Linked DNA regions of Homo sapiens. The protein of the gene in region 1 interacts with the protein of each later gene in a biochemical or structural test. Each region holds a gene or a part of one and is shown in the gene's direction. Other genes may lie near its edges. The genes, in order: PRDX6, CASP10, GSTP1 and SFTPA1.

What was found.
Region 2: the proteins of PRDX6 (region 1) and CASP10 form a complex in vitro, tested with the Homo sapiens proteins (one study listed by BioGRID).
Region 3: the proteins of PRDX6 (region 1) and GSTP1 form a complex in vitro, tested with the Homo sapiens proteins (one study listed by BioGRID).
Region 4: the proteins of PRDX6 (region 1) and SFTPA1 form a complex in vitro, tested with the Homo sapiens proteins (one study listed by BioGRID).

What each region holds. Positions count from the first base shown.
Region 1 is NC_000001.11:173,472,627-173,480,403, forward strand, and holds the start of PRDX6 (peroxiredoxin-6), read left to right. Parts: upstream 1-4,708; 5' UTR 4,709-4,771; coding exon 4,772-4,866; intron 4,867-7,777. UniProt on the Homo sapiens protein: Thiol-specific peroxidase that catalyzes the reduction of hydrogen peroxide and organic hydroperoxides to water and alcohols, respectively. Can reduce H(2)O(2) and short chain organic, fatty acid, and phospholipid hydroperoxides.
Region 2 is NC_000002.12:201,207,043-201,214,146, forward strand, and holds part of CASP10 (caspase-10 isoform 1 preproprotein), read left to right. Parts: intron 1-1,032; coding exon 1,033-1,141; intron 1,142-1,247; exon of another isoform or gene 1,248-1,425; intron 1,426-2,027; coding exon 2,028-2,520; intron 2,521-7,104. UniProt on the Homo sapiens protein: Involved in the activation cascade of caspases responsible for apoptosis execution. Recruited to both Fas- and TNFR-1 receptors in a FADD dependent manner. May participate in the granzyme B apoptotic pathways.
Region 3 is NC_000011.10:67,579,589-67,586,880, forward strand, and holds GSTP1 (glutathione S-transferase P), read left to right. Parts: upstream 1-4,223; 5' UTR 4,224-4,255; coding exon 4,256-4,256; intron 4,257-4,545; coding exon 4,546-4,581; intron 4,582-4,875; coding exon 4,876-4,982; intron 4,983-5,096; coding exon 5,097-5,184; intron 5,185-5,549; coding exon 5,550-5,653; intron 5,654-6,515; coding exon 6,516-6,623; intron 6,624-6,800; coding exon 6,801-6,989; 3' UTR 6,990-7,065; downstream 7,066-7,292. UniProt on the Homo sapiens protein: Conjugation of reduced glutathione to a wide number of exogenous and endogenous hydrophobic electrophiles. Involved in the formation of glutathione conjugates of both prostaglandin A2 (PGA2) and prostaglandin J2 (PGJ2).
Region 4 is NC_000010.11:79,606,285-79,613,938, forward strand, and holds the start of SFTPA1 (pulmonary surfactant-associated protein A1 isoform 1 precursor), read left to right. Parts: upstream 1-4,654; 5' UTR 4,655-4,698; exon of another isoform or gene 4,699-4,854; intron 4,855-5,000; exon of another isoform or gene 5,001-5,034; 5' UTR 5,035-5,105; intron 5,106-5,294; exon of another isoform or gene 5,295-5,335; coding exon of another isoform or gene 5,336-5,357; intron 5,358-5,518; coding exon of another isoform or gene 5,519-5,541; coding exon 5,542-5,713; intron 5,714-6,027; coding exon 6,028-6,147; intron 6,148-6,904; coding exon 6,905-6,982; intron 6,983-7,452; coding exon 7,453-7,654. UniProt on the Homo sapiens protein: In presence of calcium ions, it binds to surfactant phospholipids and contributes to lower the surface tension at the air-liquid interface in the alveoli of the mammalian lung and is essential for normal respiration.

The sequences.
Region 1 (7,777 bases):
TCAGACCAGCCTGGGCAACACAGGTTAGGAAGACCCCGTCTCTACCAAAAATAAAACAATTGCCCAGGTATGGTGGCATGTGCCTGTAGTCCCAGCTACTCAGGAGGCTGAAGTGAGAGGACTGCTTGAGCCCAGGAGCTTGAGGCTGCAGTGAGCTATGATCACACCACTGCACTCCAGCCTGGGTGACAGAGCAAGGCCCTGTCTTAAAAAAAAAAAATGAAAAAAAAAAGGATAAAAAATGGTACACCTATATAGGGCATTTACCATGAATATAGCTTGCAGGACTGGAAGTTGCCATGGGTGAGACAGTGAGTGAGTGGTGAATGAATGTACTGTAGACTTTATAAACACTGTACACTTAGGCTACACTAAATTCATGTGTAAAAATTTCTTTCTTCAATAACAAATTAACCTTACCTTACTATAACTTTTTTACTTTATAAACTTTAAAATTGTTTTAATGTTTTGACTCTTCTGTAATAACACTTAGCTTAAAACACAAACACATTGTATAGCTATACAAAATACTGTATTTTCTTTTTTATATTCTTATTCTATAAGCTTTTTTATAATTCTAAAAGGTTATTGTCTTTTGAAACTTTTTAAACTTAAAAACAAAGACATAAATGCACACATTAGCCTAGGGCTTCACAGGGTCAGGATCCTCAAGACATCACTATGCGAAAGGAATTTTTCAGCTCCATTATCATCTTATGAGACCACCGTAGTATATGTGGTCCAATGTTGTATCACATGACTGTATAACTAGAGACATCTTGCTCTTTTACTCCCAGCTGTGGACAAACAAGAAACTTTGCTGTTGTGGCTGCAGGAAGGCGACCCAATGTTTCTCTAATACTTTGTACAACGTAGTCCTCATGCCCACTATGTGTAACAGGTCACAAATATTCATTAATAAAATATAGTCAAACCTTTAGGAGTTCACAATCTAGTGAGAGAGACAGGCATCATGGTGCACTGTTGTTTTTCCAAATGCCCATTGCTAATCTGTTCATTTTATTCTTCTGTCAAAGCAGTAAAGACAGAAGAGAAGATGTGAGTCATCCCAGAGTCACAGCCCTCTGGAAATGCCTGAAATCCATTCTTTCCTGTCCCTCAGATTACTGTAAGGACTTCAAGGTTCTCTCCGACCCTTATAGCTGTATGAAAACACTTTTTCTGATAGGAGAGCCTCCACCCTCTCTCTAAGGAAAGTAAATCCTTTCTTAGTCAAGCTCTCCCTTTTCCACACTCCGGTCTTTCCCTGGAATGTCTCCTCTGTCCTTCCTCCCCTCCTCCTTTCCCATTATACATCTCACTAACCCTCAGGAAAATAGCTTTAAAATTTTCCCTCTGGAATGGGGCCCAGTCCACAGAGCACCTACCTTTGGTATAAGTCAGATGTTAAACTCAATTACCTACGAAGGCCAGGCAGAACAGCGTTCTTCTGACTTTGTTTGCATATTAAGTTCATGGAACATTCTCTACTTTCACAAAGAAACATGATCATTTTTTTCTTGAAATATACAGCCCTTAGTTAAGCTTTCATTTGCACAGTTTTGACAGATAAGAATGCAAGAACTATTTCTTTTTCCTCCCAATTCTACTCTAATGTTAGTAACTGGCAGAGGACCTTCTGAGTAACAGAGAACATTGCCCTCTAAAAGGCTACTCAGCAGCCACTGTTTGCCAGATGGAACATGGGCCTGGTGTTGCTGTGTTGCTAGATCTTCTGACCTTTCAGGAGACAAAAATCCAGATATTTTTATGAAAAATCATGTTTTCAAAATGCTGATGTGGACGAAAGAAAGAGAGATCAGACTGTTACTGTTGTCTATGCAGAAAGAAGAAGACATAAGAAACTCCATTTTGTTCTGAACTAAGAAAAATTCTTCTGCCTTTAGATGATGTTAATCTGTAACCCTAGCCCCAACCCTGTGCTGGCAGAAACATGTGTTGTGTTGACTCAAGGTTTAATGGATTTAGGGCTACGCAGGGTGTGCTTTGTTAAAAATGTGTTTGCAGGCAGTATGCTTGGTAAAAGTCACCGCCATTTTCCAGTCTCAAGTACCCAGGGACACAATGCACTGCGGAAGGCCGCAGGGACCTCTGCCCAAGAAAGCCTGGGTATTGTCCAAGGTTTCTCCCCACTGAGACAGCCTGAGATATGGCCTCGTGGGAAGGTAAAGACCTGACCGTCTCCCAGCCTGACACCAGTAAAGGGTCTGTGCTGAGGAGGATTAGTGAAAGAGGAAGGCCTCTTTGCAGTTGAGATAAGAGGACGGCATCTGTCTCCTGCTCATCCCTGGGAATGGAATGTCTCGGTGTAAAACCCGACGTACATTCTATTTACTAAGATGGAAAAAACCGCCTTATGGCTGGAGGTGAGACATGCTGGAGGCAATACTGCTCTTTACTGCACTGAGATGTTTGTGTAAAGTCAAACATAAATCTGGCCTATGTGCACATCGAGGCATAGAACCTTTCCTTAAACTTATTTACGACACAGAGACCTTTGCTCACATGTTTTCCTGCTGACCCTCTCCCCACCATTATCCTATAGTCCTGCCACATCCCCCTCACCGAGATAGTAGAGATAGTGATCAGTAAATACTGAGGGAACTCAGAGACCAGTGCCGGGTCCTCCGTATGCTAAGCGCCGTCCCCCGGGCCCACTGTTCTTTCTCTATACTTCATCTCTGTGTCTTATTTCTTTCCTCAGTCTCTCATCCCACCTGACGAGAAACACCCACAGGCGTGGAGGGGCTGGCCCCCTTCAGTGGACAGCTAATTCAAGACAATTTAAAATGCTCCAAAGTCTAAAGCAAACAAGTTCACAGAGTGCAGAAGCATTGCCAGTGTACAGCTTCTGGCACTGTAAATTCTAATGAGTATTTTATTATATTTGCTTAATTTACAACAGACAATAATATAATTATGCCTTTGACAGACATCAATAATCTGTTTCTGTATTCATTCTCCATATTTATAGAGTATTGTGTTTTCTAGCTGATTTCCACAACATATTGTTAACAGTGCCTTAGGCCAAACTACTCTTCTTTCCCAACTATTCTCTTTCTTCCCTACAAAGGGAGTTAAAACAAGGAGCTGTTAAAACTTGGAGCCAAATTAGAGATTAAATTACATTAGCTTTAAACGGTTTTGTGAAGTGGCTAGAAATTTTTACCAGTAATCTTACTGCAAGTCCTGGGTCACTGAAGAACTCGGTAAATATGATTAGCATGCACGCACCAACACATCACTGTGATGAAAACGCAAATCACAGTATGTGAGTCACTACTCTCAACATTGCCATGCCCCTGCCTTAAACCTGCCAGCCCCATCCAGAGGATTTTTCTCATCTCTGAACTCCAATCATTTACACCTTCCCCCATCAGAATTTACCCTACATTTTATTATAATTGCATATAAATATGCCTTCCCTGTAACAGCAGGGACTGTGTTTCTCCACTGTATGGCCTGGCACAGTGTCCAGCACACAGCAGGCAAAGCAAGAGTTACTGCATGAGCCAGTGTCATCATCCAAACGATAGCTACCATTTCCAGAGCACCTACCGTGAGCTGACTAGTTTACCTACATTATCCTGGTGGCTTTCCCAGACCAGACCACCCAAACCAAAGCAGCCCCCCAGTCACCCTCTAGGCACATAACCCTATTTTAGTTCTCTGAATACGACTGATTGCTGTCTAACATATTTTGGTTTGTGTGCTTATTGTCTGTCACCGGTTTCCCTTCACAAGAAGGAAAGCTCCAAGAGGACAGGCATCTTATCTACCTTGTACTTGGCTCATAGCAAATAAATGAATCTAAGCCGCCCACCTCCCTGGGTGACAGAGTTGACCTGCACACAGTAGGTCTCAAAGAGTATGTTTTAAATTTTATATTTAGATTTCAAGATAATTGTGTTGAATATTTTATGGTTCATAACAAACAGAAAGGGGAGGGCAGAATAAAAATAAATAAAAGTTTAGTTACATTACCCTAGCACTGACATTGGTACGGGAATTTTTGCTGCAATAAGAAAGCCACTTCCTCTGACATAAGGTCACCCATACTTCTGGGTCTTGCCACATCCTCTTAGACAGTTCATCGTAGCTGGGCTGGCTGGGGCGGTCAGGACTCCAGACGCTCACACTAAAAGAGGGGTGGTAGTCGAGCAGTCACTCCACTCCTCTGTAGGGAGCTGGCCGCGAGTGGGTGCGCAGCAGGGTGCGCGCGGACCCGTGCAGCGCCCAGGGCGGCTGTGCGAAGCCGCCGCAGCCTGCGCGCCCAGGCGATTCTCCACCTTGGGGCTCGCCTTCCTGCCGCGTTCCTCTTCCTTCCATCCCTAAAGCGCGTACGCCCTGCAGAGTCAAACCTGGCGCATCCTCAAGCTTCCAGGGGGCAACGTGACCGAGCCCCGCATCACGTGTGCAGAGACGGCCTATAGTGTCTGAAGGATGCCACCTAGTCGCAGGCCCGGCGGCGCCACCAACAGCGACCGCGGTAGTCCAGCTCGCGCCGCGTCCCGGCCCCAGCCCGGCCCGGCCCAGCCCCGCCCCGCGCCCAGCCCCGCCCCGCCCCGCGCCCAGCCCAGCCCCCGCGGCCCGGCCCCCAGCGGCCGGCCTCCCGCGGCCCCGCCCCCGCCGCCCCAGTCCCCGCCCCTCGCGCCTTCGTTTATTCCTCCGCGCGCTGGGACAGGCTGCTTCTTCGCCAGAACCAACCGGTTGCTTGCTGTCCCAGCGGCGCCCCCTCATCACCGTCGCCATGCCCGGAGGTCTGCTTCTCGGGGACGTGGCTCCCAACTTTGAGGCCAATACCACCGTCGGCCGCATCCGTTTCCACGACTTTCTGGGAGACTCGTAAGTGGCCACCGCGTAGCCCTGTCCTGGCCTCGGTTGCGCCGGACTCGGAGGTGCCTTCCCTGTTTCTTCTCCCTGCCGTCCTCCCGGCCGCTCAGCCCCCTGCGCCGCCCTCGCCTTCCCCCGCACTGGTTCCGGCGCGCGCCAGGCCGTGTGGCCTCTGCTCAGCGTCGGCTGCGCTGCTGGGAGCTGGCACCCGTTCGGCCTGCCCTGCGCGGGCCACTCGATCCCTCCTGGCCTCCCCGCCTCCGGCGTGGCTGGGCAAGGCCACGCCAAGGTGGGGGGTGGGGAGGATAAAATTGTGTTCTGCGGGTTCTGGAAACTCACCGCCCGCGGGAGGGTTTGTTGTCCATTTAACTCGTCTTAGTAAACTGTGCAGGTAGCGTGGTCAGGCCGAGGGCGCAGGGGCGGGGCGGCATTGACGATCACTTCCCCGGACTAGTGCCCAGGGTCGCACCGCCCTCCCACCCTCCGTTCTGGAATTTGCTCCCTGGGGAGGATGGGTGTCTAAAGCCAAAGTCGGAGGACACAGCTGCTGGCTATAGGTTACAGGAAGGCCAACGTATCATCTGAGGGTGCAGTGGTATTTGCAGGCTTCTGGGCACAAAATGTGAAATTTAAAACCACTAGCTGCCAAGTAGGTGGCCGAAAGACTTTTTGTCCAGAGCCGCCTCCAATGGCCAAGATATGATTTGATAACAGCTTTAGGAAGAGCCAAGAACACTCTGCGTAGGTGTGCCTTCAGAGATTCCAGAACTTGCAACACTTGGAGGGAAGGACTTTCTGACGCTGTTCCGCTGGAGTGGCCTATTCTTGCTAGTGATGGCCGTTCCAGGCTCCAGGACACGTGTACTCCCCAACTTTGAGACTCTCTTGTTTTCCAGTGGCTTGCCCCTCACTGTCCCCTCCGCTTTCTACCTTGCTTCTAGCACATGAGCTTGCTGATGATAGCCAAATTGATGACCTGTGATCTGACTTGGCAGTTTTACCATTATGGATAGGAGTAGTAAATCGGTGTTGCCCTTTTTTTTTTTTAACAGCTCCTGAATCAGCAAACTGGAAGTTGCTTAGTTTTCATCAGAAGCATTCCAGGCATGTCTAGTTATATTATGGTTCTGGAGTACTAGTGGTCCCACTACACTGTGGGGCTCCAAGGCTTGACAACAGTTCTTCCCCAGATTATATCCTTTTTATATACAGTATCCAGGGAGACAGGCTTATGAAATTAATCAGTGATTGGACAGGGCTGTGCAGAGAACCAGGGACAGATTCTTACACATCATATGCCTATCCAACCCTTTATAACCTCTTAAGTCCCTTTTCCAGCCACTGAATAGGGAAAAGTTAAGCTTTGTGAAAGATAGGACTAGGCCAGAAAAAGGTTGAGAAATGGAATATTCAAACCTTGAATGCAGAAAAATACTTTAGAAATACAGCTTATGGCCATTCTTATACTTAGGATCTAGGTAGTAATATTTCTCCAGCAATCCTTGGGATTTTTAGAGTTGTGTTCCTTCCCATTTCTACCTGCAGCCCTCATCCCCCATCCCCATGAAACATAAACTATTTCCAGAACTCTTAGCTTGTATAGATTAAATATTAGCATAAAACGTATTTACTGTGCCAACAGTTATAAATGCTGTCACTTTTTAAGCTAACCATACTTTTTTGGGGTTTTGTTAATGTTTATTGGCCTCTAGATCCATCTAGATTTGATCAAAAGTGGTACTTTATCAGGGAGCCATAGTTAGGAACACGGTAGAAATATCTGCATTTATTAACTAATATACAAGTCTGCCTAGGATCAGGTATAGTATTCCCTACCTTACCGGGAAGAGAAGTTTGAGCCTTTTATATGTTTATAACACATGGATTTTTGCCTGATTTTTCCAATTTTCTATTCTGTATATGATCCCAAATCAGACTGTCAATTTTTGATCCAGGTATTTTTGAGAAGAAAAAATTAAAATGTATTTCTCTACCTTACCCCTGATCATTGTAAACAACTAAAGAGGTTGGGTGCTACATTGGGTGAGTTTACCTTATCGCTGTTTCTTTAAGTGGTAGAAGCAGCTTCTTCATAGTACATCTTCACTAAGCAAAATATGTGTTTTCCAGGGGTCTTCTGGGGCTTAGTAAGTGGGAACCATTCTCTTGAAGGAGGAAACCTTTTGTCTTTTGAAAATGGGTAAGAAAATGGGAGCATGTCACTGAATTACTCTTAAGTGCAGCAGTAGGAAGACTTGGAGGGGAAGGAAGGCCAAGGTAAGACATTCTTGGAGTTTATCCTATTTGTAGCCATGAGGTAAACTGGAGTTTCACTTCTGAGGGAGGGAAGGACGTGAACTGGCTTAAAACCAGTTCCTTTTGCATGATTCAGCAAAACAGTCTTTATGGACTCACAGTGGAAAAAGAACTCCTAACTTTTCTAATTTATCCTCCTTTTAACGATAGAGGAGGAAACGCCCTGTTCCATTTCTTCTCAACTTCTGGAGACCTTCTGTTAAGTCTCATCTAACCATTAAATAGATCGTTTTCCATAGAATCTAAGGCCTAGATTTTACTCATAGTGATATTATCTACTTCAAAAGATATACTCTATGTTCTTCCTTTTGCCCTTCATAGTAAAGTGAACATAGTGCACACCTCCACAATCTTAAAAAAAAATACTAACTTTCCTCCCAGTCTTGCCATAGGGCCCTCCATCCTTTTTGTAAGAAGATCTTTTTCCTTCTTGAAACCTTGGGAGTTGAGTGGCAGCCGTAAGTAGGAAGGAGGTGCCCTTGTCTTTGCTTGTTCTCTGTGCTCAGGGAAACTTCAGAAAGGTCAACTTGGCATCTAGGCTAGATTTAGTTATCTACTAGTTTAGGATCCTGCCTAAATCATCTGGTTTAGGATGGTTTAAGTTGAT
Region 2 (7,104 bases), on another chromosome or scaffold:
ATTAATTAGCTAATTCCACACTAGGGCCAGGATCTTGAGAACTCTCTGCCTCTGATACTGGGAGTGGCATCCTGAAAGAAAGGAACTGTCTAATCTTTAGTGCAAATGAGATTTATCCTTTGTCCTGGGCTCTAGGACTTAAAAAAGAATCTTTGAAATTTTATTCAGATCACAATTGTGCAGTAAAAGTGAGTTGCAGAGTAGTCAGAATCCCCAGTTTTTCAATATGTGACTTCAGAAATAATGTGGCATAAATACCCCAAGGGGTTTAGACTAGAGTATAAAAACATGGTTTTGGACAGGCATGGTGGCTCATGCCTGTAATCCTAGCACTTTGGGAGGCTGAGGTGGGCGAATCACTTGAGGTCAGGAGTTCAAGACCAGCCTGGCCAACATGGTGAAACTCTACCTCAACCAAAAATACAAAAATTATCGGCTGGGCGCGGTGGCTCATGCCTGTAATCCCAGCACTTTGGGAGGACGAGGTGGGCGGATCACAAGGTCAAGAGATCAAGACCATCCTGGCCAACATAGTGAAACCCCGTCTCTACTAAAAATACAAAAATTACCTGGGCATGGTGGCGGGCGCCTGTAGTCCCAGCTACTCGGGAGGCTGAGGCAGAAGACTCGCTTGAACCCAGGAGGTGGAGGTTGCAGTGAGCTGAGATCACGCCATTGCACTCCAGCCTGGGTGACAGAGCGAGATGCTGTCTCAAAAAAAAAAAAAAATTATCTGGGGGTGTTGGTGGGCACCTGAGGCAGGTGGATCCCTTGAATCCGGGAGGCAGAGGTTGCAGTGAGCCGAGATCGCGTCACTCACTCCAGCCTGGGCAACAAGAGTGAGACTCCATCTCAAAACAACAACAACAGCAACAACAAAATAACAACAACAACAAAAACATGGTTTAAACAACTGGCATGGGGAGATACATCCTGCTCTTCCTCACAGTGGATCCATTGGAGTGGTTGGTTAGAAACATTTAAGGCCCTAAGATAAGGATTCCTACTAAGTGGCTCTATCTATTCTTCAAGAGGGCAGCTGTGTACAGGATGAATCGGAACCACAGAGGCCTCTGTGTCATTGTCAACAACCACAGCTTTACCTCCCTGAAGGACAGACAAGGAACCCATAAAGATGCTGGTAAGAAAGTCTGGAACAGTTTATCAAATGCAAATTGGGGATCTTAAAATTATTTTTTATTTTCACATTTTCTTTCTGTGACTTTTATCTTCCATATACGTGTAAGGATGATATCATGTTTCTGAGCCTCTTATATATCCCTGGGGAGTCATCAGTCTGCTAAAGAGTGGCAAGAATCTTTGACTATTCACAATTCTGAATAGAGGAGAGCATGTACTGGGGGAGAGCCTGCTGGATTGGCACGAGACAACTTGGGCGTGAGCTCCAGCTCCACCACTAACTAGGTGTGTGATCATGGGAGAGTCAAGAGACCTTGGCTTCTTCAACTGTGAAACAGGATGAAACACTGGCCACTGCCGATTCTCAGGACTGTTGTGACAACACTGGGTATTACGTGATAGGAGATTCATTGTAAGATTTTATGGTTATGAAAATAAAAATAATCCAAAGCTTTAGGCTATTTGCTGTGCAAATTTTGTAACTATTAGCATTGTTTCAGTTTTTTTTTTCTTTGAGACAGAGTCTTGCTCTGTTGCCCAGGCTGGAGTGCAGTGGTGCAGTCCCAGCTCACTGCAACCTCTGCCTCCCAGGCTCAAGCCATTCTCGTGCCTCAGCCTCCCGAGTAGCAGGGATTACAGGCGTGAGCCACCACACCTGGCTATTTTTTGTATTTTCAGTAGAGATGGGGTTTTGCCATCTGGCCAGACTGTTCTCAAACTCCTGACCTCAAGTGATCCGCCTGCTTCGGCCTTCCAAAGTGCTGAGATTATAGGTGTGAGCCACTGTGCCCGGCCTTGTTTCAGTTCTTCATTTTGTTTTGCATCATTTTATTATTTCCCCTTTCTCTCTCTCTCTCTCTTTTTTTTTTTTTTTTGTTTTTAAACAGAGATCCTGAGTCATGTGTTCCAGTGGCTTGGGTTCACAGTGCATATACACAATAATGTGACGAAAGTGGAAATGGAGATGGTCCTGCAGAAGCAGAAGTGCAATCCAGCCCATGCCGACGGGGACTGCTTCGTGTTCTGTATTCTGACCCATGGGAGATTTGGAGCTGTCTACTCTTCGGATGAGGCCCTCATTCCCATTCGGGAGATCATGTCTCACTTCACAGCCCTGCAGTGCCCTAGACTGGCTGAAAAACCTAAACTCTTTTTCATCCAGGCCTGCCAAGGTGAAGAGATACAGCCTTCCGTATCCATCGAAGCAGATGCTCTGAACCCTGAGCAGGCACCCACTTCCCTGCAGGACAGTATTCCTGCCGAGGCTGACTTCCTACTTGGTCTGGCCACTGTCCCAGGCTATGTATCCTTTCGGCATGTGGAGGAAGGCAGCTGGTATATTCAGTCTCTGTGTAATCATCTGAAGAAATTGGTCCCAAGGTGAGAGCTCTTTTTTTTCTTCCATTTGTAATTAATTAGTTTTATTTATTTTTTATTTTACTCTCATTCAACACCTTTGGTAAGGGTGAGAGTTCTACGTTGTTCTATCCATGTACCTGTTCAACCATCTGCCTACCCTCCTGTTTATCTATTTATCCATCTATCCACCCATTCATCTATCCATCCATCTATCCACCCATTCATCTATCCATCCATCCATCTGTCCATCCATCCATCCATCCAGCAACCTTGTATTGAGTACCAGCCTGGACCTGGAAAGGAAGATACAGAGTTAAAAAAAGACAGAGTCCTTGCCCTCAGGTTGCTTACAAGCTAGAGGGATAGACAAACAAATAGACGGGGAAGGGCATCCCCAGCTGGTAAGTGCACATTGTGAAGTATAGGTGTTATGGGAACATGCAGAATGAGTACCTTGCCCAGATTTGAAGGATCAGAGGAGGCTTCTAGAAATGACAAATAGATGTTAGGTAAAGAATCAGGTGAAAGATGTGCTGGGCAGAGGGAATAGCATGAACAAAAGCATGGGGGCCTTTTATTTGTTCGTTTATTTATCACTCACTCTTACGTCCTGAGCACCTATGTGCTATCTTTGGACTTCTATTTGCCACTGCTCTGACAGCTTCCCTTCTGTCTCTGCCACATGCTGTCCTCTTGGCACCTTTAGCCATACCTAGAGGCCATGGGCTCCTCCATGAAAACGTCTCCAAAGTTGCCATCTCTGGCCCACTCATCTCTGAATTCCTGGGGGCAGAGACCCTGTTTCATTCAACTTTATATCCTCAGCCCCTGACCTGATATATTGTGAGCTTGTTAAACATTTGCTGGGCCAATGAATGACTTGCTTGAGCCTGTCTCATTAACATCCCGCTAGATATCCTACCTCTGTTTAGCCCTTGGACCTCACATTCAGCATGCATGTTTCTGAGCTCATCTTCCCAGCTCTCTCCAGGAGCTCCTACTCCTGAATTTCCATTTGAAGGAATGGCCATAGTGCTCTTCTGGGAATTCAGGATTGGAACCTTGAGTCAACTTTGCTTTTCTCTCTTCTTTACCAGCCCCTCCATTCTCATCACAGACATCAGAGGCTAATGTCTATGGCTTCAGGAACAAGGCAATATTTATTGAGAGCGTACTATGTGCTTACTGTACTGGGTACCGAACTGGGGACAGGGGGTGCAACTGTGTACAAGAGAGACAAAATCTGCTCTCCAGGGAGCTAAAAGTCCAGTGAAGGAAGGACAGATAATAAAAATATAAGTGAATATTTAAATTATTATTATTTTAAAAATTCAACAATATTAAAAGGAGACAGTATACATGCATGATTAAGCAATGTGTGGTTTTTTTTGGTACTCCAGAAATTTCTGTTATTTTTAATTGATACTTCATAACTACATATTTCAGGGTTATAATTTGATGTTTCAATACATATATGTGTTGTATAATGATCAAATCAGGGTAGTTAGTGTATCCATCACCTCATGCATTTATCATTTCTTTGTGGTGAGAACCTCTAAAAGCCTCTCTTGTAGCTATTTTGTAATATACAACACCTTACTGATTGATCGATTGATTTAAATATGGGATCTCACCATGTTGCCGAGGCTGGCCTTGAACTCCTAGGCTCAAGCAATCTTCCTGCCTTAGCCTTGTAAGTAGCTAGGATTATATGCTCAAACCACAGTGCCCAGCTCAGAATGCCTTACTGTTAACCATAGTCACCCCACTGTGCAGCAGAACACCAGAGGTTATTTCTCCTATCTAATTGTAACTTTGTACCCATTGACTAACCTCTCATCTTCCCTTCCCTCCTTCTCTCTCTCATCTTTGTAATTGCTGTTCTAATCACTGCTTCTATGACATCAACTTTTTAAACAAAGATTCCACATGAGTGAGAACAAGCAGATTTTTTCTGTGTCTTGCTTATTTCACTCTGGGCTCATTCATGTTGTCAGACATGTCAGGATTTTCTTTTTTTATGGCTGAATGGTATTCTGTCACGTATAAATATCACATTTTCTTTATCCATATATCCATTTTTGGACCCTTAGGTTGATTCCATATCTTGGCTATTGTAAATAATGCTGCAGTAAACTGGGAGTGCAGATATCTCTCTGACATATTGATTGCATTTTCTTTGTTTATATACTTAGTATGGGGATTGCTGGATCATATAGTATTTTTATTTTTCATTTTATGAGGAACTGGCATACTATTTTCCATAATGGCTGTACTAATTTTCAATACCACCAACAGTGTGTAAGTGTTCCCTTTTCTCCAGATCTTTGCCAATATGTGTTTTCTTTTGTTTCCTCGATAATAGCCATTCTAACTTGAGTGAAGTAGCATCTCACTGTGGGTTTTTTATTTTTATTTTTATTTTTTTTTAGACAACATCTTGCTCTGTCAGGCTGGAGTGCAGTGGCGCAATCTCAGCTCACTGCAGCCTCTGCCTCCTAGGTTCAAGCAATTCTTCTGCCTCAGTCTCCCGAGTAGCTGGGATCACAGGCATGTGCCACCACGCCTGGCTAATTTTTGTATTTTTAGTAGAGACAGGGTTTTACCACGTTGGCCAGGCTGGTCTGGAACTCCTGATCTCAAGTGATCCACCCACCTCAGCCTCCCAAAGTGCTGGTATTACAGGCGTGAGCCACGGCGCCCAGCTGTCACTGTGGTTTTGATTTGCATTTCCGTGATGATTAGTGATGTTGAGGGGTGGAAGCGGGTAAGTAGGAAAACTCCCACCACAACTATAGTGCTAGAGTGAAGTAGGGCTGAGACTGGGGTTGGGCCTTCCAAGGCGGAAGGAAGTCAGGGGTGGAGGCCAAGTTGGGCTGATTTTCCTGCTGCTGCTAAGAGAAAACCAATTAATGGAAGAAGGTTGGGGGTAGGGTTAAGGATAAGTATTTGTTGAGGCTCTCATGTATTGGATGATGAGAGGAATCATGCTATAGCTAAAATAAAGCCAATGTCACCAATGCGATTGTATAGAATTGCTTGGAGGGCTGCTGTGTTAGCATCTGCTTGGCCATGTCATCAGCCAATTAGTAGAAAAGATATAATTCCTACACCCTCTCATCTGATAAAGAGTTGGAAAATGTTGTTGGCAGTAACTAGAATTAATATTGTGGTGAGGAAAATAAGTAGGTATTTGAAAAACTGATTAATGTTCAGATCTGCCTTCATATATCATATTGAGAATTCTATAATAGATCAAGTGATAAATAGTGCTACTAGAATAAACATTATGGAGAATTAGTCTAGTTTGAAGCTTAATGAGAGTTTTAGGGTTTGGATTGTTATTCAATATCAGTTTGAGATGATGGTTTCTTGGTCTGTACACATAAATGTTGTGGGAATGAGGCTAATGGTGAAAGTGCATGCGACAGCTATTTTTACATAGTATGGATATGAGTTCTTTTTGTGAGGGTTGATAAAGGTAATAATAATTGGTAAGGTTAAGGAGATTAAGGTTATTATAGTAATGGAAAAATACATGATTATTACTTTTATTTGGAGTTGCACCAATATTTTTGGTTCCTAAGACCAATGGATAACTCTCATCCTCTAAAAGTTGAGAAAACTATGTTGTTAGGCATGGAGGCATGAGTTAGCAGTTCTTGCAAACTTTATCGGTAAATAAGAAGTTGCGGACTTCTATTATTAGACCACAATCTAACATTTTGATTAAACTATATTTACAAGGTATAAGTCCTATAATAATTTTAGGATTTAGAGATAGTAAGAGAATTGGTGAAAGGTGTATGAGTATTAGTATGTTTTCTCGTGTAAAGGAAGGTTTAATGCTGTTAATATAGTATGTTAGTGTTCCTTGTTGTGTTGTGACAAGTATATAGAGGGAATAAAGGGCTGTGATTAATATATTAAGTCCTATAAGCATGATGGTAGTGTTTGATCAGGAGAATGAAGCCGTTGTTACAAGGAGTTCTCCTACTAGATTAATAGTGGGGGGTAGGGCAAGGTTGGTGAGATTTGCTGTAAGTCATCAAAAGGTTACTAGTGGAAGTAATGTTTGACGTCCTCGAGAGAGTAATATGATTCAGCTGTGGATTCACTTGTAGTTTGAATTTGCTAGGCAGAATAGTAGGGACGAAGTAAGTCCATGGGGAATTATGAGGATAATTGCACTGGTAAAACTTCAGGGGGTTTGAATGAGGATAGCCACAGTAACAAGTACCATGTGGCTTACGGAGGAATGTGCAATAAGTGACTTTAGATCAGTTTGTCGTAGACAGATGGAGCTTGTCATAATATGCCTCATAAGGATAATATCAGGAAAGGATAGGCTATATGTTCTGTCAGAGGGCTGAGGATGAGGGTAAGTCGCATTTTGTGTAGCCGCCCAATTTTAGGAGCACTGCTGCAAGTACTATTGAGCCAGCCTTAGGTGCTTATACATGGGCTTTGGGAAGTCATAGGTGAAGTCAGTATAGGGGTATTTTTACTATGAAGGCCATTATACATGCCAATCACATGAGATTGTTGGATCAGGAGATTGGTAGTTCTTGATATTAAATGTTATTATTATCATGCTCAGTGAGC
Region 3 (7,292 bases), on another chromosome or scaffold:
ATGTCACTGCTGAACACTGACCCTGGTGCAGGCTAAACCGAAGTTAGCCTCTGCTACCCTCTGCTGGGTGAGGCACTGGGGAGAACAGTGGGACTGAATGGGGCGGGCTTTCTCCCTCCCACACTTCCCCTGGAAACACCCAGCACCAGCACATTAGAACATGGGGAGCCACCTTCCCCAGCGCTGCTTCCCAAGGTTCGGAAGGGGAAACTCTGACCTCAAGCTCTGTTTGAAGAGCGATAGCAAAGGGGAGAGGTTGGCTGTGGTTTGGTGGTGCTTATCTCCTTCCTTTGCTTTGAAACCACAGGCTGGCATACTACCCGAGAGAATGACCAGTGCCACCAAGGGAAGGGCACAAGCTCACTGGTTCCAGGGGAGACATCTCAGGGGACAGGAACATCCCCTGACGCTGAATGAGTGCAGCACACAGACGGAGAATACACACAAGAGAAATCATGAGGACATGAGAGAAGGCACTGGCAATAGGAAGTTACAAAAAGCAACAAAAAGAAAGAGTAGATATAAAAACAATAATCGAAGAAAGCCAACAACAGATGGGATGAATCATACGAGGTATGCGACTCATGGATGAAGAGGTGAGTGATGAGATCAGCTGGGGAACTCTCTCCCAGGAAAGACAAACCAGAAGAAACACAAATGACATCGAAGTGGCCAGGCGCAGTGGCTCACGCCTGTAATCCCAGCACTTTGGGAGCCCGAGGCAGGTGGATCACTTGAGGTCAGGAGTTTGAGACCAGCCTGGCCAACATGATGAAACCCTGTCTCTACTAAAAATACAAAAATTAGCCAGGTGTGGTGGCAGGCACCTGTGATCCCAGCTACTCAGGAGGCTGAGGCAGGAGAATCACTTGAACCAGGAAGCAGAGATTGCAGTGAGCTGAGATGGTGCCAGTGCACTCCAGCCTGGGCAGTAGAGTGACAGCCTGTCTAAAAAAAAAAAAAGGCAGTAAAGTGATAGGAGGATAGATTAGAAGGGCCATTTTCCAGATAGTGCAAGGAAGAAAGAAGAAGAAGAAGAGGAGGAGGAGGAGGAAGAGGAAGAAGACGGAGAAGAGGGCATCTCAGAAGAAACAATGGAGATACATTTCTCAAAACTGAAGAAAGATGACCAACCTCAGACCGAAGGGCCAAGAGGCCAAACCAGAGAGACAGCTTGGCAAGCCAGGAAGAGCACCAAAGCTAGACAATTAGAGTGAAATTAAAGAAAACCCAAGGTGACAAAAATTTAAAAAGCTTCCTTGTGACCTCAGTCCATTGGTGAAAATTTAAAAAAAAAAAAAAAAAAAAAAGGACAGCCTGGGCAACATGGTGAAACCCCATCTCTACAAAAAATACAAAAATTAGCTGGGTGTGGTGGCACATGCCTGTAGTCCCAGCTATTCGAGAGGCTAAGTAAGGCAGGAGGATCACTTGGGGCCAAGAGTTCCAGACCAGCTGCGGCAACATACATGTTGTGGGAAGTCAGGCACCCCGAACGGAGGGACTGGCTGAAGCCATGGCAGAAGAACATAAATTGTGAAGATTTCATGGACATTTATCACTTCCCCAATCAATACTCTTGTGATTTCCTATGCCTGTCTTTAATCTCTTAATCCTGTCATCTTCGTAAACTGAGGATGTATGTCGCCTTAGGACCCTGTGATGACTGCGTTAACTGCACAAATTGTTTGTAGAGGACAATTGTTGTGTGTTTGAGCAATGTGAAATCTGGGCATCTTAAGAACAGGATAACAGCAATTTTCAGGGAACAAGGGAGATAACCTTAAAGTCTGGCTGCCTGTGGGCTGGGCAGGACAGAGCCATACTTCTCTTATTACCGCAAACAGGTAAGAGAAATATCGCTGAATTCTTTCCCCAGTAAGGAATATTAATAATTAACAGCCCTGAGAAAAGAATGCATTCCCAGGGCCGGGCCACTGAAATGGCCTCCCTGAGAGTGCCTGCCTTTATTCAGAAGTAGAAAGGGATGAAACACGCCCTAGTCTCCTGCAGCACCCCCAGACTTGATAGGATTAGGAAATTCCAGCCTGGCAAATTCTAGTCAGACCGGTTCTCTGCTCTTGAACCCTGACAGTGCGTGCACAGTGGGACCTGGAAGTTCATTAGTGATTCTAGTTTCGCCGTGACCTTCTGCCCTGTGATCTTTTGTCGCCCTTGAAGTATGTGATCTCTGTGACCCACACCCTGTTCGTGCACTCCCTCCTCTTTGAAAATTGCTAATAAAAACTCGCTGGTTTTACGGCTCAGGGGGCATCACGGAACCTGCGGACATGTGATGTCTCCCCTGGACACCCGGCTTTAAAATGTCTCTCTTTTGTACTCTTTCCCTTTATTTCTCAGGCCAGCCGACACTTAGGGAAAATAGGAAAGGACCCACGTGAAATATTGGGGGCTGAATTTCCCCCGATAATAAGTCTCTTAAAAAAGACTTTTAAATGAAATTTCTTTGTTTTTTAACTTTTATTTCTGTTTTGGGGGTACATGTGAAGGTTTGTTACATAAGTAAACTCGTGTCTTCGGTGTTTGTTGTACAGAATATTTCATCACCCAGGTATTATGCCGAGTACCCAATAGTTCTCTTTTCTGCTCCTCTCCTTCCTCCCATCCTGCACCCTGGAGTCAACCACAGTGTCTGTTGTTTCCTTGTTTGTGTTATAAGTTCTCATCATTTAGCTCCCACTTACAAGTGAGAACATCCAGTATTTGGATTTCTGTTCCTGCATTAGTTTGCTAAGGATAATAGCCTCTAGCTCCATCCATGTTCCCACAAAAGACATGATCTAGTTCTTTTTAATGGCTGCATTAAATGAAGTTTTAAAGATACAACATAAACACCAACCTCTTCCCCACCACAAAAATCCCTTGCTGAATTTGATTACACTTAAATTAACGAGTTTTGTTTCATGAAAGACTCCTTGGACAAACTTGACAGTTGATGGAATAGGAGAAGCTGTCTGTCATGTCTAAAGCCAACAAGAGATCAATATCTAGAATAAATGGAGATCTGCAAATCAACAGAAAGTAGGCAGCAAAGCCAAAGAAAATAGCCTAAGGCACAGCCACTAAAAGGAACGTGATCATGTCCTTTGCAGGGACATGGGTGGAGCTGGAAGCCGTTAGCCTCAGCAAACTCACACAGGAACAGAAAACCAGCGAGACCGCATGGTCTCACTTATAAGTGGGAGCTGAACAATGAGAACACATGGTCACATGGCGGCGATCAACACACACTGGTGCCTGTTGAGCGGGGTGCTGGGGAGGGAGAGTACCAGGAAGAATAGCTAAGGGATACTGGGCTTAATACCTGGGTGATGGGATGATCTGTACAGCAAACCATCATGGCGCACACACCTATGTAACAAACCTGCACATCCTCTACATGTACCCCAGAACTTCAAATAAAAGTTGGACGGCCAGGCGTGGTGGCTCACGCCTGTAATCCCAGCACTTTGGGAAGCCGAGGCGTGCAGATCACCTAAGGTCAGGAGTTCGAGACCAGCCCGGCCAACATGGTGAAACCCCGTCTCTACTAAAAATACAAAAATCAGCCAGATGTGGCACGCACCTATAATTCCACCTACTCGGGAGGCTGAAGCAGAATTGCTTGAACCCGAGAGGCGGAGGTTGCAGTGAGCCGCCGAGATCGCGCCACTGCACTCCAGCCTGGGCCACAGCGTGAGACTACGTCATAAAATAAAATAAAATAACACAAAATAAAATAAAATAAAATAAAATAAAATAAAATAAAATAAAATAAAATAAAATAAAAAAATAAAATAAAATAAAATAAAATAAAGCAATTTCCTTTCCTCTAAGCGGCCTCCACCCCTCTCCCCTGCCCTGTGAAGCGGGTGTGCAAGCTCCGGGATCGCAGCGGTCTTAGGGAATTTCCCCCCGCGATGTCCCGGCGCGCCAGTTCGCTGCGCACACTTCGCTGCGGTCCTCTTCCTGCTGTCTGTTTACTCCCTAGGCCCCGCTGGGGACCTGGGAAAGAGGGAAAGGCTTCCCCGGCCAGCTGCGCGGCGACTCCGGGGACTCCAGGGCGCCCCTCTGCGGCCGACGCCCGGGGTGCAGCGGCCGCCGGGGCTGGGGCCGGCGGGAGTCCGCGGGACCCTCCAGAAGAGCGGCCGGCGCCGTGACTCAGCACTGGGGCGGAGCGGGGCGGGACCACCCTTATAAGGCTCGGAGGCCGCGAGGCCTTCGCTGGAGTTTCGCCGCCGCAGTCTTCGCCACCAGTGAGTACGCGCGGCCCGCGTCCCCGGGGATGGGGCTCAGAGCTCCCAGCATGGGGCCAACCCGCAGCATCAGGCCCGGGCTCCCGGCAGGGCTCCTCGCCCACCTCGAGACCCGGGACGGGGGCCTAGGGGACCCAGGACGTCCCCAGTGCCGTTAGCGGCTTTCAGGGGGCCCGGAGCGCCTCGGGGAGGGATGGGACCCCGGGGGCGGGGAGGGGGGGCAGACTGCGCTCACCGCGCCTTGGCATCCTCCCCCGGGCTCCAGCAAACTTTTCTTTGTTCGCTGCAGTGCCGCCCTACACCGTGGTCTATTTCCCAGTTCGAGGTAGGAGCATGTGTCTGGCAGGGAAGGGAGGCAGGGGCTGGGGCTGCAGCCCACAGCCCCTCGCCCACCCGGAGAGATCCGAACCCCCTTATCCCTCCGTCGTGTGGCTTTTACCCCGGGCCTCCTTCCTGTTCCCCGCCTCTCCCGCCATGCCTGCTCCCCGCCCCAGTGTTGTGTGAAATCTTCGGAGGAACCTGTTTCCCTGTTCCCTCCCTGCACTCCTGACCCCTCCCCGGGTTGCTGCGAGGCGGAGTCGGCCCGGTCCCCACATCTCGTACTTCTCCCTCCCCGCAGGCCGCTGCGCGGCCCTGCGCATGCTGCTGGCAGATCAGGGCCAGAGCTGGAAGGAGGAGGTGGTGACCGTGGAGACGTGGCAGGAGGGCTCACTCAAAGCCTCCTGCGTAAGTGACCATGCCCGGGCAAGGGGAGGGGGTGCTGGGCCTTAGGGGGCTGTGACTAGGATCGGGGGACGCCCAAGCTCAGTGCCCCTCCCTGAGCCATGCCTCCCCCAACAGCTATACGGGCAGCTCCCCAAGTTCCAGGACGGAGACCTCACCCTGTACCAGTCCAATACCATCCTGCGTCACCTGGGCCGCACCCTTGGTGAGTCTTGAACCTCCAAGTCCAGGGCAGGCATGGGCAAGCCTCTGCCCCCGGAGCCCTTTTGTTTAAATCAGCTGCCCCGCAGCCCTCTGGAGTGGAGGAAACTGAGACCCACTGAGGTTACGTAGTTTGCCCAAGGTCAAGCCTGGGTGCCTGCAATCCTTGCCCTGTGCCAGGCTGCCTCCCAGGTGTCAGGTGAGCTCTGAGCACCTGCTGTGTGGCAGTCTCTCATCCTTCCACGCACATCCTCTTCCCCTCCTCCCAGGCTGGGGCTCACAGACAGCCCCCTGGTTGGCCCATCCCCAGTGACTGTGTGTTGATCAGGCGCCCAGTCACGCGGCCTGCTCCCCTCCACCCAACCCCAGGGCTCTATGGGAAGGACCAGCAGGAGGCAGCCCTGGTGGACATGGTGAATGACGGCGTGGAGGACCTCCGCTGCAAATACATCTCCCTCATCTACACCAACTATGTGAGCATCTGCACCAGGGTTGGGCACTGGGGGCTGAACAAAGAAAGGGGCTTCTTGTGCCCTCACCCCCCTTACCCCTCAGGTGGCTTGGGCTGACCCCTTCTTGGGTCAGGGTGCAGGGGCTGGGTCAGCTCTGGGCCAGGGGCCCAGGGGCCTGGGACAAGACACAACCTGCACCCTTATTGCCTGGGACATCAACCAGCCAAGTAACGGGTCATGGGGGCGAGTGCAAGGACAGAGACCTCCAGCAACTGGTGGTTTCTGATCTCCTGGGGTGGCGAGGGCTTCCTGGAGTAGCCAGAGGTGGAGGAGGATTTGTCGCCAGTTTCTGGATGGAGGTGCTGGCACTTTTAGCTGAGGAAAATATGCAGACACAGAGCACATTTGGGGACCTGGGACCAGTTCAGCAGAGGCAGCGTGTGTGCGCGTGCGTGTGCATGTGTGTGCGTGTGTGTGTGTACGCTTGCATTTGTGTCGGGTGGGTAAGGAGATAGAGATGGGCGGGCAGTAGGCCCAGGTCCCGAAGGCCTTGAACCCACTGGTTTGGAGTCTCCTAAGGGCAATGGGGGCCATTGAGAAGTCTGAACAGGGCTGTGTCTGAATGTGAGGTCTAGAAGGATCCTCCAGAGAAGCCAGCTCTAAAGCTTTTGCAATCATCTGGTGAGAGAACCCAGCAAGGATGGACAGGCAGAATGGAATAGAGATGAGTTGGCAGCTGAAGTGGACAGGATTTGGTACTAGCCTGGTTGTGGGGAGCAAGCAGAGGAGAATCTGGGACTCTGGTGTCTGGCCTGGGGCAGACGGGGGTGTCTCAGGGGCTGGGAGGGATGAGAGTAGGATGATACATGGTGGTGTCTGGCAGGAGGCGGGCAAGGATGACTATGTGAAGGCACTGCCCGGGCAACTGAAGCCTTTTGAGACCCTGCTGTCCCAGAACCAGGGAGGCAAGACCTTCATTGTGGGAGACCAGGTGAGCATCTGGCCCCATGCTGTTCCTTCCTCGCCACCCTCTGCTTCCAGATGGACACAGGTGTGAGCCATTTGTTTAGCAAAGCAGAGCAGACCTAGGGGATGGGCTTAGGCCCTCTGCCCCCAATTCCTCCAGCCTGCTCCCGCTGGCTGAGTCCCTGGCCCCCCTGCCCTGCAGATCTCCTTCGCTGACTACAACCTGCTGGACTTGCTGCTGATCCATGAGGTCCTAGCCCCTGGCTGCCTGGATGCGTTCCCCCTGCTCTCAGCATATGTGGGGCGCCTCAGTGCCCGGCCCAAGCTCAAGGCCTTCCTGGCCTCCCCTGAGTACGTGAACCTCCCCATCAATGGCAACGGGAAACAGTGAGGGTTGGGGGGACTCTGAGCGGGAGGCAGAGTTTGCCTTCCTTTCTCCAGGACCAATAAAATTTCTAAGAGAGCTACTATGAGCACTGTGTTTCCTGGGACGGGGCTTAGGGGTTCTCAGCCTCGAGGTCGGTGGGAGGGCAGAGCAGAGGACTAGAAAACAGCTCCTCCAGCACAGTCAGTGGCTTCCTGGAGCCCTCAGCCTGGCTGTGTTTACTGAACCTCACAAACTAGAAGAGGAAGAAAAAAAAAGAGAGAGAGAAACAAAGAGAAATAACCATGGTCACTGTCCTGGAGCACCACA
Region 4 (7,654 bases), on another chromosome or scaffold:
GGTCCAGGAACCATTTAGTTCCCTCAGGTATTTGAGCTAGCAGGGTATACGGATTGGGAATCATTGAATGTATTGGAACCACAGCCTCATTAACAAGGAGGTGGTTCTGAACTAGCCTCCATTTCTAGTTGGGTTTTTGTACCCCCAATATTGGGGTATTACAAGGGCTATTGCAGGGTTTGAGTGGGCCCTCCATCTTCAAGTTATCAATGATGGCTTCTAGTCCTTTCCTAACCTCTAGTTTCAGGGGATATTGTTTCTGGTTAGGAAAGGAGGTGGGATCCTTAAGATGGACCCAGACTGGTATGGTAGTTGTGGCTCTGACAATCTTCCCTAGAGTTGCCCAAACTTCTGGGTTAATATTGGTCTCTACTAGGATGAGACAAAGAGTTTCCCTAGGGGCCATCAGAATGATGGTCCCCACATGGGCCGGAATATCCCTACCCAACAGAGGAGTTGGGCTTTCAGGCATAATTAGAAAAGCTTTGGTGAACAACCCCAGGTACAGCTAAGGGGTTGGAAAAAATATCGGGTTAAAGACCTTCCTGAGATGTCCCTCACAGTCATGCTAAGAGAGGAGAGGGGGCCTGGATTCAAGAGGAGAACTGAGAGACCAGTCCCAGTGTCCAAAAGGAGGTCCACTTTCCTCTCTTCGATTTCCATGATTACCCAGGGCACCTTGATGATAATGGTGGTCTGGACTACAGGAGCCAGGAGAGGAGCCCTGGGACCTGTCAGTCCTGCTGCTGGACCATTTGGAAGACTGGCTCTGGACCTGGTGACCAGCATGCCCAGGAACAGTCCACCCTCCAGTGGTCCCCACTGCAGATTGGACAGGGTTGAGGTAGCTTCCTCATGCTGTCTGAGAAATTCTTGAAATGCCCTGATTTGCCACATCTGTAGCAATTGACAGGTGCACCCTGGGAATTCTGGGGTTTGTGGGCTTGTCTGCTGGCCATTAAAGTCTCTGTCTCTTTCCTGTATTTCCTCTCTCTCTTGTGCCTACCTATCTCTATTATAAAAAACCAAGGTGGGTACTTTCAGAAGGTTCTCTAAAGTACTCTCTTGTCCCAGAGCCTGTTTTGTAGCTTCCTCCTGATATCAGGGGCTGCCTGAGTAGTAAATTTATGCTTTAGGATTGGTTGTCCCTCAGCTGAATCAGGGGATAGACAGGTGTGCTTTACTAAGGCCTCCCTTGGCCTTTCCAGGAAGGCAGTGGGATTTTCATCAAATCCCTGGTCAATCATGGATGATTTAGTATAATTGAGAGGCTTGGTCCTGGTCTTACATAAGCCCTCCATTATGCACACCTGAAAGTGCCTCCTCTTCCAGGCTTCCATCTTGTCATTGGAATCCTATTTAGGGTAATCCATTGATACTGCTTCTCTCCCAGTTGGATAATGTTTGCCCCCTTCCCTGACACTATATGTGATACTAAGCTCATCCCCAAATCTCTCTGCTGCTTGCAGAGCAGCCTGCTTCTCAGTGTCTGTCAAGGTCTGGTTCAAAAGCAACATAATGTCTCTCCAGGAGAGATCAAATATTTGGGTGAAATTCTGGAAAGCCTCTATATATCTGTCGGGGTCATCTGAAAAGTTCCCAAGATCCCCCTTAATTCACTTTAAGTCCTGTAGGGAGGAGGGGAACTGGACCTTACTGGGCCCAAATTCACCAGGCATTGGTTGAAGGGGCAAGAGTGAGGTTGGGGCTTGTCTAGGGTGAGGATTTTTAGGAGGGGGCAAGTGAGAGGCTGAAGCTGAATAGGGAGGTCGAGGTAGACCCAGAGGGGAAGAGCTGGAGGGGGCTGGCTTCTCTGCTTGGGGTGCCTCTGGGATTCATATCTTTAGTTTCCTAGGCTTGCCCCTTGCAGTCCTCCCTGAGATGGCAAGCAGGAGGGCTGTATCAATCCTACACTGTCAGCAAAGGTCTGGATTGCCTTGCAAGGTATAGAAAACCTGCACATATGGGACCTCAGACCATTTGTCTTCATGTATACAGAAAAGGCCTGATCACCGGATACTATCGAAATGAAAGGTTCATTCCTGAGGTCCACCCGGTCCTTCATAATTTGGCCAAACCTTTGTGCAGAGGGCTATGAGGCATTTTTCTTCCAGATTAAGAGGATCAAAGCAGTCCCATTGGTTCTGGATACACTCCAGAGGGGTATAAGCTGGGAGTGGTGAAGAGAGATGGTTGCCTATTCTGAAAGACAGAGAATAGAGGCATGCCTCATTCCCTTCCTTCTTTAGTGAAAACTCAGGGTGTGATGGAGAGAGAAAGCAAGACTGTGGACTCTGAGGTGGCTTGGCATGGGCGCCCAAGGACTGGCAGTGTGAAGAGGATATCCCTGCAGAGGGAAGAAGCCCAACGTGGAGGGTGAGGCCCCGAGGAGAACGAGAAAGATACTGAAGGAGAGCGGACTGGACCGGCGGGGGCAGTGGAGCCTAAGCAGGGGGAGGAGGCTGTGGACACAGCTGAGTGGCCTGGTGTGGGCACTCGGAACTCAGCAGGAACTACAGCAATTCTTAGAGCTAAGAGTGACAAATTTGTGTTGGGAGAACCATCTTCTTAACGACATTCTTTAGATTCACTGGTGCCATGTGCTGGCAAACTGTAACTGTTTCAACATCAAACACACGTAGTGCCCCCTGCAGCCCGCAGGTGGGTGCTCGGCACCCCCTGGTGGTCAGTGGTAGGCCTCACGAACGAGTCCACATTGCTACAAATCAATCAATGGGCAACAGAGACAGTGTGATGAGGAATGGGATCTTTACAATAGCCCCAAAGTGCGTCCTCATAACATAGTCACTGATTAAAACCAGAAAAAGAATGTATTTATGGTAGTGAAGCGTGACACCCACCACCTTAATTCAATGATCAACAAGAACATCATCAATCTTGGGGCAAACTAAAGTCACATGCCGCCCGGTAGAATGGGAGAAGAGCGCAGCAGGATGTCTATCGCATTTCTGCTGAAGTTACAGAACCTGAATCTAATCATGAGCCAATACATTAAAAAAAAAAAAAAAAAAGTGAGGGGCATTCTACACAGTAACTCTCCTGTGATCTTCACACTGTGTTCAGGTCATGAAGGTGAAGGGAAGACAGAGGGCCTTTGTGGGTTTCAGGACCCTGGAGAAGCGTGACAACCGAATACGGCACATGGCTCAGAAATGGATCCTTTGCTATAAAGGACACTATTGGGGCATTGGGTACATTTTGCATAGGGCCTGAAGGCTATTTGGAGTTATTATATCCATGTTAATTTCTTGATTATGGTTATAATGCGAAAATGCCTTTGCATGAAAAACACATTAAAGTATTGGGGTGTTGGGGTTTCATGCTGACAACCTACTTTCATAGGTTCAGGGAAACATATTTGTACCGTGCCTGCAATTCTTCTGTAAATTTGATGTTTCAAGATAATAAAAACAAAAAGGAAACTGAGCCTCAAAATGTTACATAACCTGACTGAGTCCACATGGGTAATAAGTGACAGCTCTGGGTGAAAACTCAGGTGTGCCTTTCCCCTAAAGTCACGCCCTGCCCTGCCAACCACAAGGCCCTGCACATCTGAGTTGGCCTCTGTTCCTGCTCATCACCTGCAAAACAGCCCTGCCTCCCCACAGCCAAGTTGCTGGAGCTGCGCCCCACCTGCCCCCACCCTGCACTGGCCTGACTCCCCCATTCCACACCTGGCCCAGCACCCACCACATGGTGTGGCAGACAGCACTGGGGCAGCTGAAAGACTCCATGCTACAAATTGGCACTGCCCAGCTTCCTGCTTCTGGGAGTGGGGTCCATTGGCTGAGCTTCCGCTCCCTGGAAGAGCTCCAGACTCCTCAATGGTTTGGGATTTTTCAAACCAATTCCAAATAAGCCAGGGGAGATTTTCCTGTCTTGGTTCCCATCATTACCACCTCCACAGTTGGAGATTCCCTCCTAATCCAGATGCTCAAACCAGGACCTCAACAACTAGGGCTTCATATATCACTGGGACACTTAGCATAATCACCATTGCAGGTTGCCAGACATCACCCAAAGTGATGTTCTACCAAAGACAGAAACTGCAGCTCTCCCGTGACCTTCCAGGTGCTGCCCTGACTCCTCCAGCTGAACCTGCTAGGGCAGAGGGAAGTGGAACGTGCAGCATATTTGCCTGCCACTCTGCCCATGTGCCCACCAACTCAGCTGCAGGCTCCAGGGACACAGGCTGGTGGGGGGGCCTGGGGCTCATGGCTGAGCCAGGTCGCAGGACAGACAAGTTGGCCTGGATCAACCTGACCAATCTCAGCTGGAGCAGTGAGTTCTTCATTGTCTGAATCTAAACCAGGAACCCAGTGGGGCTTCCTTAGTGCCTGTGTAAGGGCTCTCGGCTTTCACTGCTAAGGAGCTTGCTAGGGGCAGGGTGGGTGACCTCAGCCAAGGGGGGGATTTCTCTTCTTACAGACCTGGAGTTCCTCTTTCGCAGGTTCTGTGCTCCCCTCAAGGGTCCTTTGAGATCCTCCAGCCTGAGTGCTCTTGGGGAAACATGCTGTGTAAACACTATGCCCATTTCCTGCCTGGAGCACAGGTTTTGTGGTAGGGCTCTCAGGGGTGAGGAGGAAGCCTGGCAGCCCCCACATCTATAAATGCTGCGTCTACCTTACCCTCTGACTTGGAGGCAGAGACCCAAGCAGCTGGAGGCTCTGTGTGTGGGTGAGTTTAGCCCCATCCCCTAGGTGTTCTCCAGCTTGAGGATCGCAGGCAGAGAGGACCAGCCCAGCAGCCACAGGCCTGACCAAAGCCCAGGCTGGGAAGGAGGGCAACTCCCCATTTTCCACTGGGAGGTGTTTCACAGCACAGTCAACATAGGTGACCTGCAAAGATCCTCATGTTTGTTATTTTCTTTGGCCAGATCCATCCCTACAGGGTTCAGCAGGGCCTACAGGAGGGGCAGTGAGAGAACAGACCCCAAAAAGAAAGGGGACTCCATGACTGACCACCTTGAGGGGGGCCAGGCTGCGGGCCCCGTTCATCTTTTTTCATTCTCAGGTCGCTGATTTCTTGGAGCCTGAAAAGAAAGTAACACAGCAGGGATGAGGACAGATGGTGTGAGTCAGTGAGTGAGTGACCTGACTAATAGCCTGGGAGGGACAGGGCAGGTTTTCTGCAGAGCACGGAAGATTCAGCTGAAGTCAGAGAGGTGAAGCCAGTTTCCCAGGGTAACATAGTGAGGCACTGAAAGAAAGGAGACTGCACTGGAGCCCAGGTCCCCGGGCTCCCCAGAGCTCCTTACTCTTCCTCCTCCTCAGCAGCCTGGAGACCCCACAACCTCCAGCCGGAGGCCTGAAGCATGAGGCCATGCCAGGTGCCAGGTGATGCTGGGAATTTTCCCGGGAGCTTCGGGTCTTCCCAGCACTCTGGTCTCGCCCGCCCTGCCTCTCGGGCTCTGCCCAGCTTCCTGAGTCCTGACAGAGCACAGTGGGGGAGATGTTGGCAGAGGTGGCAGATGGGCTCACGGCCATCCCTCCTGCAGGAGCAGCGACTGGACCCAGAGCCATGTGGCTGTGCCCTCTGGCCCTCAACCTCATCTTGATGGCAGCCTCTGGTGCTGTGTGCGAAGTGAAGGACGTTTGTGTTGGAAGCCCTGGTATCCCCGGCACTCCTGGATCCCACGGCCTGCCAGGCAGGGACGGGAGAGATGGTCTCAAAGGAGACCCTGGCCCTCCAGGTACTGTGCTGCAGACCCCACCCTCAGCTGAGGGACACAGACCCCTTTTCAGGAGGCCCATCTGTCCAGGCCCCTAGGCTGTGGGCCATAGTGAGCTGGGGGCTATAGTAAGCTGGGTGGGACTTCAGTCTGCAGGGCTGGTGGGTTCCTGGGGCCCTTATGATGGCGCATCCTGGAGAGTCTGTCCTCATAGTGCCCACGGAGTGATAGAGTGATAGCTGAGCCAGCCCTGGTGATAATGGGCATCGAGTCTCACTAGCTCCAACCAGTTGTGGGTGACAGATCCTACACATCCATGTCTCTTTTCTCTGCAGGCCCCATGGGTCCACCTGGAGAAATGCCATGTCCTCCTGGAAATGATGGGCTGCCTGGAGCCCCTGGTATCCCTGGAGAGTGTGGAGAGAAGGGGGAGCCTGGCGAGAGGGGCCCTCCAGGTGAGCAGGGTGGGGCAGGTGGGCAGTGGAAACATGGGCACAGCGACCCTGAAGTCAGTTACACGGGGATGATGGGGATCAGACAAACCCTACAGGTTCCCCAAGGGCATTTGGCTCAACCTAAGTAAGAGAGGATAAGCTTGAGGGAGAAAGCTGAGGTGTCTGGGGAGTGTGGTCACAATTCAGGGAAAGGCAGGTGTGGGAAGTCCTCCGTGCCTCATGACCACCGATGGGGACACACTGAGTCAGGTGTGGGATGAGGGACAGCACTGGGAGGCAGGGGAGGCATGTCCTGGGATGGAGGCCCTGGGGGCTGTCTGAAGGGTGAATGCGGACGAGGCATCCAGACAGACGGTGTGATCAGGAGCCCCACAGACAGAGGGGAACTTTGAAGCTCAGAGCGGTAAGCAAGTCCATCAGGGCAGTGCAGAGAGCATCATGCTTGCCCTTGGTGGAGGGTGCGGGAGAGGGACTTGCCCCACAGAGGCGGGCAGACAGAACCCCTCGAGGGACAGAGCAGGAAAGAGGACAAGGGGTGGGGGTCTCAGCAGGGGCAAGGCTTCACTAAAGAATAGGGGACCACGGGGTGTGGAGACACACTGGAATCTTGTGGACCCTCTGAGCCTAGGGTCTGGGTGGCGCCTAACAGCAATGAAAGGGCAGAGTTCCAGGATTGCAGATGGCAAAACACCTGCGTGGCAGCAAGTGGGAGTCTTCACTGGCCTGCCCCTCCTTCTGTGTGGGGCACTCTCCACAGGGCTTCCAGCTCATCTAGATGAGGAGCTCCAAGCCACACTCCACGACTTTAGACATCAAATCCTGCAGACAAGGGGAGGTAAGGGGACCCCCTGGGCCTCACGGGGTAGGAGTTTCCCACAAATTCCCCTCATTCTCAGCACCAGCTTCTAGAACATAGAGATTACAAATAGGCATGCACATGCAGGTCTTGGGGAAAGGAATGACGCTTGCTTTTCTGATGTCTTTGAATGGCCCAGAGGAGACAGAAGCAGACACAATTCACTCCCCATTTCATAGGAAAGCAAGTTCTCCACCTGCCTTGCTTTCCACTGAATTCCAGGAAATTGCACCATTTCTGGCAATAAGTAATTGTTACTTAGGTGAATGAATAAATGGAGGAGAGTCTAAAAGTGAATTTAGAAAACTGCAATTGGAAGAGGAAGAGAAGACACAGAGAGAGGCAGAGATGGAGAGACTGGGGAGAATCTGGTAGCAGAGACCCCAGGTGAGGGAGGTGGCTTAGAGACAAAGTGGTCAGTGGCCTGACCCGGACTCCTCTGCTCTCAGCCCTCAGTCTGCAGGGCTCCATAATGACAGTAGGAGAGAAGGTCTTCTCCAGCAATGGGCAGTCCATCACTTTTGATGCCATTCAGGAGGCATGTGCCAGAGCAGGCGGCCGCATTGCTGTCCCAAGGAATCCAGAGGAAAATGAGGCCATTGCAAGCTTCGTGAAGAAGTACAACACATATGCCTATGTAGGCCTGACTGA